Linked DNA regions of Homo sapiens. The protein of the gene in region 1 interacts with the protein of each later gene in a pairwise test. Each region holds a gene or a part of one and is shown in the gene's direction. Other genes may lie near its edges. The genes, in order: RAC2 and AFG3L2.

Region 1 (3,812 bases):
CCACCACCCTGCTTGGCTGTCTTCATAGGCCCCCCGACAGCCCGACTTCATCTTGCTGCTCCTTTGCTGCCACTCCTCCTCTTGGATGGAAGCTCCCTGAGGACGGGGCCCTTATCTGCCTCACTCCCTGCCATCGCGCCAGTTTCTAGAACAGAGCTGAGCCCATTCCTGTTGCTCCGTCATGACTGCCTCCCCGACCCCGGGGAGGAAGGCAGGGCTCAGCTCTGCATGGAAGAATGTGTGCTGCTAATTGAGGTTGAATCATTTGGCACTTAATTTTCACTTTCATTTGAAATCCTCTCTTCGGTAAACTGGCGAATCCAGCCTGGGATTCCAGTGGACAGGATGACATCAGCCTCCCTAGCTGTGTGCGCCAGGCCCCACCAGGTTCTGCCTGGCCTCTCGGCAGCCCCATCCCTGCTCCTGCCGCTGTGTGTGTGGGTGCCTCATGATGTCCAGTGGCTCAAGCCTCTGCCTTAGCTCAGGCACCCCTTCTGTTGGGTATTCTGTTCCCTCCTGCTCCACCTCTCCCTGCCCCGTGACACCTCCAGCTGCCTTCATCTTTCAACCAATAGCACGGTAAGGGCCTCCCCTCCTGGCTGATGTGCCAGTTTCCCCCTCTGTTCCCCTCTGGCCCCTCCCTAAGACTTCTCCAAGAGGGTCCCTCCCTCCCTCCCTCCTTCCCTCCCTCCCTTCCTCCCTCCCTTCCTCCCTTCCTTCCTTCCTTCCTGACGGAGTCTCGCTGTGTCACCAGGCTGGAGTGCAGTGGTGCGATCTCGGCTCACTGCAACCTCTGCCTCCCGGGTTCAAGCGATTCTGCTGCCTCAGCCTCCCAAGTAGCTGGGACTACAGGCATGCACCACCACACCCAGCTAAGTTTTGTATTTTTGGTAGAGACAGGGTTTCACCATGTTGGCCAGGATGGTCTCGATCTCTTGACCTGGTGATCCACCTGCCTCAGCCTCCCAAAGTGCTGGGATTACAGGCGTGAGCCACCGTGCCCAGCTGGGACCTTTTATAAATGCAAATCTGATCTCATCACCTCTGCCTGGCTTGGCCCCTTGCTGGTTCCCCATTGCCCTGAGAACCAAGACCTGACTGGTCCGTGCCCCTATGACATCAATCCTTTCTCACCCCCAAGTCACTAGCCATGCGTGCCCTGTGGTCTCTGGGTTCCTTGAATGCACCATCCTTCCTCCGTGGGGGTGGGCTTCGGTGGTGGTCAGGTGATACCTGGGTGCTGGGGCCCCTTCCACCTGCCCCATTCCCCTCCTCCACTCCATTCTAGGGCCAGGCCTCAGAGTTCTACAGGCACTAGATGAAAACATGGTCTCTGCTCTCTCCAACTCCATTTCCAGCCATGAAATAGCAGCGATGCTTACCATGTGGGCCTTTCTGAATTGGGTAACAGGATCTAGCCTTGCTCTGCCACCCACTGGCTGGGAGATCTTGGGCAAGTCCCTTCCTCTCTGTAAGCCTCAATTTCTTCATCCGGAAAATGGGGTGAGGGTTGCCCATGGTGGTCTGTGCATAAGGTTCCTCTCTGGTCCTGGCTGCCTGTGGGTCTCTTAAGTAAGGGGGACCCTCAGGGGTGTCACACCATTGACACATTCCTGCACCTGTCCCTCTGGTCCTCTGGGGAGGGGCCCTGTGGCAGGGGCATTTGGGGACATGGAAAATGAGACTGCTTAGCTTCTCAGCATCTCCCAGTGGGGTGGCTTGAACATCCTCTGTTTTTTTGGATTCTCCTAATGGCTCCAAGAAATAGGTATTTTCCCCTCCACATTAAAGAGATTGAGGCTCAGAGAAGTTAGGTCACTCACCCAGGGTCACACAGCCAGGATGTCCTGGCTTCCCAAGGAACTCTGTGTTCCCGCCCAACAAGAAAGGTCCTTGACCTCTTCAGGCCTCAGTTTCCTCATCTGTCTAATGGGGGTAACTTAAGATCCTTTTGTCTTGGATCACATGAGACTTCAAGACCTAACATACAAAGACCCTCAGCCCCCTGCCTGGCCTCAGAGAAGGTGGCTGTTGCTTCTCAAGGTCCCAGCTCTTTCCCCATCACCGTGGCCCTGAGATTCCAGGGATGACCCAGAGGAGACAGGTGAATCTTGTGGGGCTTCTTGGCACTAGCACTGTGGCTGGACATTAGAGGAGAGAGTGTCCAAGCATTTCCCAAAAGTGTGTTTCTGGTCAAAACTGGAAAAACAACACAGGTGTGGCTTTTCCCATCATGCCTCACTGTGTCTCCCTGGACAGCGCCTTCTTCCTGAAATCCCACAGCAGTGTAGGTGGTACCCAGAGTAGGTGCACGCCAGCACCTGCTGTGCACCAGACCGCGGGCTGGCCCCAGGGTGCAGCGGCAAACAAATGAGGCTTAGTGCCTGCCACCTGGGATGCTGAGTTCCCCAAGGAGTGCTGGTTTAGGTGGGGTGGTAGCCCCGACATGGCTGGAAGTCAGGAAAGGCTTCTTGGAGGAGGTGACATTGAGCAGGGGCTGGAGGGATGAGTAAAAGTCAGCCAGCCTGGCAGTGGGGAGGAAGAGAAGGGAGAGAGGAAGGAGAGTGGGAAGTCAGGGGCCACTGTTTGCAGGCACTTTCCAGACAGGCGGGAACAGGGCCGTTTGAGGAACTGAGAGGTAACCAGGAATTCTGTCCAGGGCTGGACAGGCAAAGTGTATTAAAAAGGCTGGGCTGCCCACTTTTTGGGGGTGTGGGGGACTCCTCTCAGGAGAGGTGTCTTTTGTGTTACTCTGAAGTGTTAGCGCTTCTGCAGCCTAACATTGAGTAGCGTTCTCTGAGGACTTCCTGGAGGAGGTGGTTTAATTCCCTTCCACCTGCATTCACTGGGTGACAGGCCTGAGACTGTGGAGAATAAGCAGGCATCGGCCTGGCCCACACAGAACCCACAGCCCTTGAAGGGGTGGAGACTCACCAAGTGCCTGCTCGTGGTCCAGGCAAAGTAGTCACCTGAGAGAGGGAACCATGGGCTCTTTACAGGTAGAGGACGACGAAGCTCCGCCAGAGAGGAGGACTTGTCTGGGCAGGGTTTTGAAGCATGAATAGAAGTTGGGAGTGAAATGGGGCTGGAAGCGTATTCCAGAGGGAGATACAGACAGGATCAAAGGCTTGGAGGGCTGGGCAGCCTGGAGGGTGTGGGGGCCAGAGACCAGGTTGGTGAGAACATATGGACAGCTAAGGTGGGAAGGACATTCTGGGCAGGGGCTTTGTGTGGACCAGCACAGGGAGGTGGGCAGTGTGAGCCTTTCCCGGGAAACGGCTTGGCTGGTGTGCGAGGGGAGGAGTAGGAGGAGAAGTCAGAGGAGCCGGAGGTCTCAGTGGACCAGGTCAGGGCCTGTGTGGGGGACCACAGCGGGAAAAGTGACAGTGATTCCCTAACCCTCAGGGGCAGGCGGTGAGGGCATTCCCGGAGGCACAGCTGTGGCCTGGGGCAGTGAGCACTGGTCGTGGTCACTGGTTTCTGGTTTCTTACCTAGTTGGGTCACTCACTGGCTGTGTGGCCTTGGGCAAGTCACTGCATCTCTCTGAGCCAAGTTTTCCCTTCCACAGCGTGGGTAGCCAGCACCTTCCTCGCGGGGATGTGTGTAGCAAGAACTGGCTTGCAAAACCTCCCCTATTCCGAGCTTGGAGCCCTGGGATGGCCCTCCCAGCATTCGTTGGGCTTCCCCGTCTCTGATATTTGTCAGGCCCCTCACCCCGTGTCTGGCCTTCCGCCAGCTGTGGGGGCAGGATCAGGCATGTACTCCTTGGTGGCCCCAGCGCTGGCTCTGCACCCGATGCATAGTAGGTGCC
Region 2 (3,812 bases), on another chromosome or scaffold:
AGTAGAGATGGGGTTTCTCCATGTTGGTCAGGCTGGTCTCGAACTCCTGACCTCAGGTGATCCACCAGCCTCGGCCTCCCACAGTGCTGGGATTACAGGCATGAGCCACTGTGCCCGGCCGATTTATTTCATTTCTTATTCAGAGAATACATAATATTCTCTGGTCAGGTGACTCTCTTTCTGTTTTTGCCAAGGTCCGAGACTTATTTGCCCTTGCTCGGAAGAATGCCCCTTGCATCCTCTTCATCGATGAAATCGATGCGGTGGGAAGGAAGAGAGGAAGAGGCAACTTTGGAGGGCAGAGTGAGCAGGAGAACACACTCAACCAGCTGCTGGTGGAGATGGATGGTGAGTGGTCAAGGCTTTTGTATCTTTAACTGCACTTTTGTTTTTTTTTTTGAGATGGAGTCTGACTCTGTCGTCCAGGCTGAAGTGAGTGGTGTGATTTCGGCTCACTGCATCCTCTGACCCCTGGGTTCAAGCGATCCTCCTGCCTCAGTCTCCTGAGTTTAAGCTGCACTTTTTATGCCTTTCATGTCCCCAAAATGAGAGTCCTTATTCCAATATTGAGTATCACAAACAAAAAAAAGCATTCCCTAAAACAAACAGCTCTTTTAAAAGGCCCTTTTATACTAATACAAATAATAGCAAAATATTTTTTCCTGGCAGCCTGCATAACTTAATATCGGTGTTAACATGCTGTTTGTGTCTGGTGTTTGAATAAGAGAAGAATTGGTGAAATGAGTCACAAAAGAATTACCATCTCATTCTCTAAATCATCACCATCTCTGAAGCATAAGGAAAATCTAAGCCTAACCAAGTGTGAATTTAGCAAATTTTGAATACTTTTTTACTAAGAGAGTAGCAGTCTTTCCATGCTAGCCAGCTTTTATTTCATTTAGGAAAGCCACTTCTCAGGATGTCATGTGTTCTTCCTGCTGGAAGATAAAAATGTGGATGCTTGGTTGTTTGTGCAGAAAGGGGAAGCACAGTGCCAGTACTGAACTGGCTTCAATGATGAAGCCAGGCATAGGGGCAGAATAAGGAGGTAGAAAGCCTCCTCCGTCCCGCGATGGTCAGCCCCTGTTGCGTTCACATTGGAGCACCACATCTGAGGGAAATTCACCCAGGAGCTCCTGCCGTGCCAGGGTCCTGAGGGTGAAGGGCCTGGGACCATGGCATTTACACTGAGAAATGGGCAGTAACACTGAGCCATTTGAGTGTGGAGAAGAGGTGGGAGGTAGAGGTTGATCTCTGCCTTCAGATAGGCAGTTGGTTGTCCTGTGGCCCAGGGTGTCAGACACATCCTTTGCCAATTTAATCTGATTTTAAGACATTTTTAAAATTGACATTATCTGTTAAATTTCTAGTTAAATTTAAATATTTGGTCATTTGTCTTTAGGAAATTTACTCGTAAAACTTTTAAGTCTAATATATGATTATTTTCAAGGACGAGCTGAATAGTAAAAAAATAATTCAAGTTTGTAACTTAAAAAACACTGGATAGGCCAGGGGCGGTGGTTCACGCCTGTAATCCCAGCACTTTGGGAGGCCCAGGCGGGTGGATCACCTGAGGTTAGGTGTTCGAGACCAGCCTGACCAACATGGAGAAACCCTATCTCTACTAAAAATACAAAAATTAGCCAGGTGTGGTGGGGCATGCCTGTAATCCCAGCTACTCGGGAGGCTGAGGCAGGAGAATTGCTTGAACCTGGGAAGCGGAGGTTGCAGTGAGCTGAGATCACGCCATTGCACTCCTGCCTGGACAACAGGAGTGAAACTCCGTCTCAAAAAAAAAAAAAACAAAAAACACTAGATAATGAATAGAAAATGTGTTTACTGTAGCTATGAATTTGCAGTGCTCATATGTTCCTGATGGTGCACTGTTGCTTTCTGCCTCTTGTCATTTAATAGTGTTTGCATTTTTGTTATCTTTCAGGTTTTAATACAACAACAAATGTCGTCATTTTGGCCGGCACCAATCGACCAGATATCCTGGACCCCGCGCTGCTTAGGCCGGGGCGTTTCGACAGGCAGATCTTTATTGGTGAGATGATGTTTGCTGGGGCAGGTCCAGTGCTCATGAGTGTAGGTGTGACTGTTTCAATATGATTTTCTTTTCCTTAAAAATGATTTCTAAAGGACCACCAGACATAAAAGGAAGAGCTTCTATTTTCAAAGTTCATCTCCGACCGCTAAAACTGGACAGTACCCTGGAGAAGGATAAATTGGCAAGAAAACTGGCATCTTTAACTCCAGGGTTTTCAGGTGAGTGGAAAATAACGAGGACCCTATTTAGAAGCATATTAAAATCAGTAACAGTTACCAGGTACCGGTTTACTTTCTTACCTTTTCACTTCTTTACTGTGGGCTTCCTAAGTTTATATTCTCATTTTTATTTTTTTTGAGACAGGGTCTCACTTAATTGCACAGGATGGACTGAGTGGTGTAATCATAGCTCACTGTAGCCTCAACCTTCTGGGCTCAAGTGATCCTCCTGTCTCAGCCTTGTTTGTAGCTGGGACTACAGGCATGTACCACCATGCCCAGCTAATTTTTTGATTTTGTGGAGACAGGGTCTTACTTATTATGTTGCACAGGCTGGCCCGAAACTCCTGGCTGTAAGTGATCCTCCTGCCTTGGCCTCCCAAAGTGCTGGGATTATAGGCATGAGCCACTGTGCCCGACTATTTTTACTTTGTTATTATGGGAAATTTCAAACATACACAGATTTTGAGGAAATGGTGTAATGAACCCATCTGTACCTGTCACCTAGTTTCAGGAACAATTACTAATTCACATCTGACCTTACTTTTATCTATACCCTCTTCTCTTTCTGCTTCCTCGGGAGTATTTTGTGAAAAATTCTTGACAGTGTATCATTTTTTTCTATAAATATTGTAGGAATTATTCCTAAGCGTTTTTTTAAAAGCTCTATTGAAATAAAGTTAACTAAAAATCACCCGTATAAAGTGTACAATTAATGGTTTCTAGTATATTTACAGGGTTGTACAACCATCACTATAATTTTAAAACATTTTGGGCTGGGCACGGTGGCTCACACCTGTAATACCAGCACTTTGGGAGTCTGAGGCAGGTGGATCACCTGAGGTCAGGAGTTCGAGACCAGCCTGGCTAACATGGCAAAACCCTGTCTCTACTAAAAATACAGAAATTAGCCGGGCATGGTGGTGCATGCCTGTAATCCCAGCTGTTCGGGAGGCTGAGGCAGGAGAATGGCTTGAACCCAGGAGGTGAGGTTGCAGTGAGCCTAAATCACCCCACTGCACTCCAGCCCAGATGAGAGAGCAAGATTCCATCTCAAGACAATCAAACTTTCTGTCTCTCTAGGTTTTTTTATTCTGTACATATTATATAAAAACGTGGTTTTGGCCAGGTACGGTGGCTCACACCTGTAATCCCAGCACTTTGGGATACCAAGGCAGGTGGATCACCTGACGTCAGGAGTTCAAGACCAGCCTGGCCAATGAGGCGAAACCCTGTCTCTACTAAAAATACAAAAATTGCCGGGCGTGGTGGTGGGGGTGCTGTAATCCCAGCTACTCGGGAGGCTGAAGCAGGAGAATCGCTTGAACCTGGGAGGTGGAGGTTGCAGTGAGCTGAGATCACGCCATTGCACTCCAGCCTGGGTGACAAGAGCAAAACTCCACCTCAAAAAAATAAAAATAAAAACATGTGGTCTTTTGTGCCTGGTTTATGTTCACTTAACATAATGAACAGGATTGATTCAAATTGTGGCAGGCATCAGAACTTCATTCCTTTTTGTGGCCAAGTAAATGTGCCATTGTTTG

The links.
Region 2: the proteins of RAC2 (region 1) and AFG3L2 interact in a two-hybrid assay, tested with the Homo sapiens proteins (one large-scale study listed by BioGRID and IntAct).

Annotation. Positions count from the first base shown.
Region 1 is NC_000022.11:37,234,104-37,237,915, reverse strand, and holds part of RAC2 (ras-related C3 botulinum toxin substrate 2), read left to right. Parts: intron 1-3,812. UniProt on the Homo sapiens protein: Plasma membrane-associated small GTPase which cycles between an active GTP-bound and inactive GDP-bound state.
Region 2 is NC_000018.10:12,349,541-12,353,352, reverse strand, and holds part of AFG3L2 (mitochondrial inner membrane m-AAA protease component AFG3L2), read left to right. Parts: intron 1-194; coding exon 195-348; intron 349-1,939; coding exon 1,940-2,047; intron 2,048-2,142; coding exon 2,143-2,268; intron 2,269-3,812. UniProt on the Homo sapiens protein: Catalytic component of the m-AAA protease, a protease that plays a key role in proteostasis of inner mitochondrial membrane proteins, and which is essential for axonal and neuron development.